Homo sapiens: one gene and its partner. The protein of the gene in region 1 interacts with the protein of each later gene in a pairwise test. Each region holds a gene or a part of one and is shown in the gene's direction. Other genes may lie near its edges.

What was found.
Region 2: the proteins of ECI1 (region 1) and MAPKAP1 interact in a two-hybrid assay, tested with the Homo sapiens proteins (one large-scale study listed by BioGRID and IntAct).

The regions. Positions count from the first base shown.
Region 1 is NC_000016.10:2,241,291-2,245,107, reverse strand, and holds part of ECI1 (enoyl-CoA delta isomerase 1, mitochondrial isoform 1 precursor), read left to right. Parts: intron 1-555; coding exon 556-702; intron 703-1,668; coding exon 1,669-1,790; intron 1,791-1,883; coding exon 1,884-2,062; intron 2,063-3,289; exon of another isoform or gene 3,290-3,473; intron 3,474-3,817. UniProt on the Homo sapiens protein: Key enzyme of fatty acid beta-oxidation. Able to isomerize both 3-cis (3Z) and 3-trans (3E) double bonds into the 2-trans (2E) form in a range of enoyl-CoA species, with a preference for (3Z)-enoyl-CoAs over (3E)-enoyl-CoAs.
Region 2 is NC_000009.12:125,669,020-125,672,836, reverse strand, and holds part of MAPKAP1 (target of rapamycin complex 2 subunit MAPKAP1), read left to right. Parts: intron 1-193; 5' UTR 194-262; coding exon 263-521; intron 522-2,929; coding exon 2,930-3,019; intron 3,020-3,817. UniProt on the Homo sapiens protein: Component of the mechanistic target of rapamycin complex 2 (mTORC2), which transduces signals from growth factors to pathways involved in proliferation, cytoskeletal organization, lipogenesis and anabolic output.

The DNA.
Region 1 (3,817 bases):
GGCTCCTGTGCTGGCGCCCGCTACTCCAGCCGTGGGAGGGTCCCTTCCACCTGTGCTCACCCCTCGCCCTTCCTTGGTAGCTGCTGAGAAACCCACACATTCCAGATCATTCTCCCACCCTAGCACTTCCTGGTCCACACGGGGGTCCCTGGCTTGCTTGGCCCTTTGCGGGTAAATGATTCAGAACGTGCAGCTCCTCTGGATTCTCAGGAGTCTTCACCACACCTCTGGGTTCTTCTGCCCGAGCCAGGCGTGCAGAGCCAGAGGGCCGGCGCACTTATGTCCCTGAGAGGTGCCTGGCGCTGCCTGTCCTCTCCTATCCAGTTTGAAGCGGGAAAGGGAAGAATGTTCTGGGAAGTACAGGGAAGCCAGGTCCAGGAGAAGCCTTGGCCGAGTCCCTGGAGCGCCTAGTCCTGGCTCTGTGGGGCAGCACCCACACCCTGAGCGTGACCTGGCCCTGCTGTGCGTCGTGCACCTGGGCTCCCCAGCCCTCCTGCTGTGATGCCAGCTGGGAGGTGGACTCTGATGGGCATGTGGCCCCGGCTCCCCCTGCAGGACCGCCCGGGTGTCTTCTCGGCCGGCCTGGACCTGACGGAGATGTGTGGGAGGAGCCCCGCCCACTACGCTGGGTACTGGAAGGCCGTTCAGGAGCTGTGGCTGCGGTTGTACCAGTCCAACCTGGTGCTGGTCTCCGCCATCAACGTGAGTGTCCCCACTCCCAGGTGGCCTCGCTGGCTGTTCTGGGCCAGCGCCAGGGGGTGGGACAGACACTGTCCTGCCCTTGGAATCTCTCACAGGGGAAGGGGACGGTTGGAGAGGCCCTGAGATGTGCACAGGTGAGCGCCATCGCAGACCACGGGGCGTGTTGAGAAAGGTGGGCCTCGGGTGAGGGCCCTGGCCTGGGTCAATCAGACAAGACCCAGAAAAGAGCCAGTGGGTAGGGACCAGGGCCTGGGGTTGATGCCAGCCTGGGTGGAGGCTGTGTGGGTGAGTGGGTGATCGGACCCACATTTTGGAAACATCACTCCATCCCTTCTGGGGGAAGGCCAGGGAAGCCGAGAACAACACGGGGGCTTAACCTCAGGAACCAGGGTGTCCTGCGGGGTGGCTGTGACAAGCCGGGTGTGGGCCGGAGCCTGGTGGAGGGGAGGGCTGGTGTGAGAGGAAGCCTCAAGGGTGCACGGCCATGCAGACAGGATGGGTCCTGCGCGGGGCAGTGGGTACCTGCAGTGACCACAGGGTGAGTGTGGGGTTCCCAGGACATCCTGGTTGCGCTAGCTGCTGGGGTGGTATCGGGGCCCCCTTGGGGCATGACAGTTATGACTAAATGCTTGTGTGGCATTTTAGCATTGAGTAAAAGCACTGAGAGGACAAGCGACTTGCTCCCCTAACTGAATGGTTTTTAAAAGTGATTTATCTGTTGCCGAAGAACTAATGACCCTCGGCTGAGGACGAGCCTCAGACCCTCCTTGCCGAGCGCTAAGGGGCCAGTTCCTTCCTCATCCATTTCCCAGTGCACACCCAGCCCAGCCCAGACCATTGTGGGTGTTGAACCCTGCGGGGGTCGGGGTGCGCCAAGGGCACAGGCCCTCCTTCCTTGGACCTGGCCCTCTGGAATGTGGTTGGGACCAGCAGCACCTAAGAGCCCTGTCCGGCCTCTCCCTGCAGGGAGCCTGCCCCGCTGGAGGCTGCCTGGTGGCCCTGACCTGTGACTACCGCATCCTGGCGGACAACCCCAGGTACTGCATAGGACTCAATGAGACCCAGCTGGGCATCATCGCCCCTTTCTGGTAAGGCCCTGGGCTGCAGCCACGCTCCATGCTTGTTGTGGAGGGAACAGACCCGCCTGGGGCCATGTGGTGAGTGGGTGTCTGCATTTCCAGGTTGAAAGACACCCTGGAGAACACCATCGGGCACCGGGCGGCGGAGCGTGCCCTGCAGCTGGGGCTGCTCTTCCCGCCGGCGGAGGCCCTGCAGGTGGGCATAGTGGACCAGGTGGTCCCGGAGGAGCAGGTGCAGAGCACTGCGCTGTCAGCGATAGCCCAGTGGATGGCCATTCCAGGTGAGGCACGGGGCATGGCGGGCGCCCGATGATGCTGGGGAGACCAGAAGGTTCTCCACCCAAAGGTTTTCTGTGGACATCGTGACTTCGGGAGACTGTTGATAATCACAGCCATGTGGGTGTCAGGAGGCTGCTGTAACAACGCAGCACAGACCGGGTGGCCCAGACCGCAGAAGCTCATCTCACGGTGCTGGAGACCAGAGGTGCAAAATCAAAGTGTGGGCAGGACTGCACTTCCTCCCTGCGTTCCAGGGAGGCTCCTTCCTGCCCCGCCCACTTCTGCTGGCTCCAGGCCTCCCTGGGCTTGTGGGCGCCTCGCTCTAATCTCTGCCTCCATCCTTACGCAGCTTTCTCCCCTGTGTTTCTGTGGGTCTCAGGTCTCTCTCTCCCTTCTCAGGACACCTGCCATGTGATTTAGGACCTACCTTAAATCCAAGATGATCCCAACTTAATTACATCTGCAGAGACTCTTTCCAAATAAGGTCACACTTCCAAGTTCCAGAGCAGTGGTTAGGGCTTGGACCTATCTTTTGGGGCACACTTTTCAACCTACTACAAAGACAATTGTCCACTTCATAGAAAAAGAGCTGGTCATATCAGCGATGGTATAGACCAGGGCCCAGCAAATTCTGTCTCTAAAGGGCCAGGTGGCTTGTGGGCTCTGTAGGTAAGACCTTTGTAGCAGAAAGCAGCCACAGAGGAGACGTAAACTGACAGGTATAGCTGTGTTCCGGCAAAGCTTTATGGACAGTGGGCCAGGTGCGGTGGCTCACGCCTGTAATCTCAGCACTTTGGGAGGCTGAGGCAGGCAGATCACTTGAGATCAGGAGTTCAAGACCAGCCTGGCCAACATGGTGAAACCCCATCTCTACTAAAAATACAGAAATGGGCCAGGCGCGGTGGCTCACACCTGTAATCCCAACATTTTAAGAGGCCGAGGCGGGCGGATCACAAGGTCAGGAGATCAAGACCATCCTGGCTAACACGGTGAAACCCTGTCTCTACTAAAAATACAAAAATTAGCCAGGTGTGGCGGCGGGCGCCTGTAGTCCCAGCTACTCGAGAGGCTGAGGCAGGAGGATGGCGTGAACCCGGGAGGCGGAGCTTGCAGTGAGCTGAGATCGCACCACTGTACTCTAGCCTGAGCAACAGAGAGCAGGACTCTGTCTCAAAAAAAAAAAAAAAAAATGAGCCGGGCGTGATGGCACGTGCCTGTAATTCCAGCTACTGGGAGGTTGAGGCAGGAGAATCGCTTGAACTTGGGAGGCAGAGGTTGCAGTGAGCCAAGATCATGCCATTGTACCCCAGCCTGGGTGACAGAGTGAGACTCTGTCTCAAAAACAACAAAAAAAATTTTATGGACACTGAAATTTGAGTTTCACATAATTTTCACATGTCACAAAATACTAACCTTCTTTTGATTTTCAACTATTCAAAAATGTAAAAACCAGCCCGGCACAGTGGCTGAAGCCTGTAATCCCAGCACTTTGAGAGGCCAAGGTGGGCGGATCACCTGAGGTCAGGAGTTTTAGACCAGCCTGGCCAACATGGCAAAACCCCGTCTCTACTAAAAATACAAAAATTAGCCGGGTGTGGGGGCAGGTACCTGTAATCCCAGCTACTTGGGAAGGCTGAGGCCGGAGAATCACTTGAACCTGGGAGGCGGAGGTTGCAGTGAGCCAAGATCATGCTACTGCGCTCCAGCCAGGACGACAGAGTGAGACTCCTCTCAAAAAAAGTAAAAACTATTCATAG
Region 2 (3,817 bases), on another chromosome or scaffold:
TTGACTAGAGCTGCAGCCCCTAGTGCTTATAAGGATTTCCTTTCAGCTTAGACTAAATCCTTTTAAGCTCCACAGAACAGGGATAAATGTTGATTTTCAAGGTGGCATTTTACTACACTGAATGTGTCTGAAAAATGATTCAGTCATTTTCTGCCTTATTCTTAAATATTTGCTGTGTACATCATGTTTCTAGGTAGGTGAGCTCGTGAAACAATATGAAGAGGAGAAAATAGCCTTTTAAGGAAATTGGCCCACAGAAAGGATGGCCTTCTTGGACAATCCAACTATCATTCTAGCTCATATTCGACAGTCACATGTGACCAGTGATGACACGGGAATGTGTGAGATGGTTCTCATTGATCATGATGTTGACCTAGAGAAGATTCATCCTCCTTCAATGCCTGGAGACAGTGGGTCAGAAATTCAGGGAAGCAATGGTGAGACTCAGGGCTATGTATATGCCCAGTCAGTCGATATTACCTCAAGTTGGGACTTTGGTATTAGAAGACGCTCAAACACAGGTAAACATTGTGTTCTAGTCATGTCTTCTGAGCTTTAAATCAGTAAACAGTCTTATGGAATAATGCATAATATTGGAATAGGCTTAATGGGGGATGTTTCCGGGTATTAATAGGAACATGCATATGTCAGACTAAGAGTGAGTCTGAGCAACATCTCCATCTCTGCGACTGCGAATGGAGAGGGCCTCTAGAATATTATTAGAAGTAGACAGAAGGGGGATAGTGAAAAAGTTGGTTAGGAGAGACATGTTGGACATTTCTAACAAGTCATTGTGTAGAAAGGCAAGTGGACTGGCTTTGAGTGTCTTCACACAGCAACATTAGTCCCAGTAGGTAGACTACCCGGAGACAGATTTCAGGTTGACATAATAAAGAGCATTTAATACAGAGAGGTGACCACCCAAAGAGAGCAGGCACTTCTTGCCCCTGGAGGAATTGTGGGGGAGTGGGGAAATGGGAGGAGACACCTGAGTATTTGTTAGGGCTGGTTTTAGTAGGATTCTATACATAGGGTGTGAGATTAGAAAAGGGGCCCCTGTTTTTGATACTTCGCCTTTATTTTCTTAAATTGATCACCTTTTGATTTTTCTGGCTTGAAAACACTCAACTTTGGTATACACGTATTTAGTCATTAGCTTTAAAAGCTTATTGCCCATTTTCCCACTTATATTTTTTTGGTGGCCTTGTTTCAAGGGGAATGTGATGAACCAAGGACTTTTTTTTTTACTTAGACAAATTATTTAGAATACATATTGTAGTTCTAATATGACAGGTATTCTAGGAGGTAATTTTTTTTAGATAATCAGAAAATATAATCTTCAAATTAGCAGTAACCTGCTAACTCCCAGGAAAGGTAATGGCAAGGAGATATAGTAGAACACTGAAAATACTTACATATTTATTTTCATGGTCCAAATGTAAAACACACATAAAGGAATATTGGAGGTAGAGCTGGATACAATTTACTGTGAAAGGCACATTCAAGTTTTGGTTCAGAATTCAGTATCTGTGACATAAGAATAATTTGCTCTCATGATGAAAATAATTAATAGCATTTCCCAGTATCTAAAGGAACTTTTGTCAAAATAGGATTTGAGTGAAGGTTTGAATATAATTTAGAACCATTGATTTTCAGTTCTCTAGTTGAAACTGACTTCCTTGCAGGTTATTGAGATGATATCTTATATGACAGGTTGAATGTATTTCAGTGGGAGAATGCTGCTAAATTGAGAGCTTTATGATTATATTACTTTGGCTGTACCCTTCACATTTATTAATTGCAATTGAATGTAGTTTTCTTCAGTGTTGGTTAGATATAGTGACATTGTCAGAATGCTCTTCCCAGCATAGTTTAAATTTCTGGTAAGATTATTTTCAGTGTTTCCCTACCACAATGCTAAGGCAGAAGTGTATAATTTCCTATCTTGAAAGAGGCGGAAAAAGAGATGTATTTATTTTCTATTAGCAAAATGCTGGGATAGGAAGCTGAAGATTAGCAAGAGAAAACTGATTTCAAGAGATGGCATCAATTGTGACTTTCTTTTTTATTGTGGTCTCTGTATGCGGCAGTTGTTAAGTGCATGCTGGGTGGTATTTCTCTAAAGGATCAGTTCACTGATTTTTGAAGGTTGATCAGCCAGTGGCAATATAATCACAAATGCATAATTTTAGGTGACTCTTGTTGGAATTTCTTTAGGTAGCACTTAGATGCTAATAATTAATTGAGATTGTAGGTTGTCTTAGTGACCAAAGAATTTACTTTTTAATCCATGCAGCATATCTTAAAATTTTGTAAAAGAAAAATTGTTCTTTTTAAGATTTGACTAATGTTACAAAGATACAAATCATTTATTTTACTACCTATAAACTGTTTCAGCCCACTGAAGAAAAGCTATGCTAATTTATATAGCTTTGACATTTTATAATTTTCATGATTTTTAGATAAAGGATTTTATATTTAAAACTTTAATAGTCTAGTCTGAGTTCATTTATCTTTAATTTTTGAAATGGGTAGAGTAATTCATAACAGTAATTTTATTCCTGTAATGTAATATTCACTTCAGTTCATTTGTGCATTAAAATTCCTTTAAGACCGTTATTAATGATTTATATAATGAAATGTCATATTAATCACAGAAGTTTTCACATTTTATTATTCTCTTCCATGTTAATACTATCTTTATGATCTCTATTAGTGTTTTATATCCTCTAATTTCAATTATAAATCAAGAATATTTTCATGTTTTTGTTGGTATTTGCTTTTCAGGGGTGCCACCTTTAAAATTTTATGACTTTTTCTCTACATATGCAATATAAAACATCTTTATTCATGTAAAGGTAGTTAATTATGTCTTTGTTTATGGTAAACTTTCATTGACAAACTTACAGTTATAATATTTCTTTTCAAGCTCAAAGATTAGAACGACTCCGAAAAGAGAGACAAAACCAGATCAAATGCAAAAATATTCAGTGGAAAGAAAGAAATTCTAAGCAATCAGGTAAATGGAAATGATTTTAATTCTTAATTTGAGATTTATATATTTAGTTTATTATATAAGAACTTTTATTTTTAATTCATCCTTTTAAATCCTCTGGACTTAGATACCTCTAGTGTTTTGAGCTTTGAGCTCTTTCTCTTGTGTGCCTTGACCCTCTGAAGCTATATGCTCTTTAGTTCTTGGCTTTTTGGCCACCCTTCACTCTGGGTCACAGGGATTGATGTGTGCAGGGGACATTTTTTACAAGCTGTCATGTCAGTATTTTTTTCTGATTTTTTAAAAAAATATAGGCCAAGGAGTACCCTATGATTTGATTTTTATTATTATTATTTTTTTTGAGATAGTGTTTCACTCTTTTTGCCCAGGCCGGAGTGCAATGGCACGGTCTTGGCTCACTGCAGCCTCTGCCTCCCCGGTTCAAGCGATTCTCCTGCCTCAACGTCCTCAGTAGCTGGGATTACAGGCGCATGCCACCACACCTGGCTAATTTTGTATTTTTAGTAGAGATGGGATTTCACCATGTTGGCCAGGCTGGTCTTGAACTCCTGACCTCCAGTAATCCACCCACCGTGGCCTCCTGAGGTGCTGGGATTACAGGCATGAGCCACTGTGCCCAGCCGATTTTTTTTTTTTTTTTTGAGACGGAGTCTTGCTGTGTCACCCAGGCTGGAGTGCAGTGGTGCCATCTCGGCTCACTGCAGCCTCCGCCTCCCTGGTTCAAGCAATTCTCCTGCCTCAGCCTCCCAAGTAGTTGGGACTACAGGTGCACACCACCATGCCTGGCTAAGTTTTGTATTT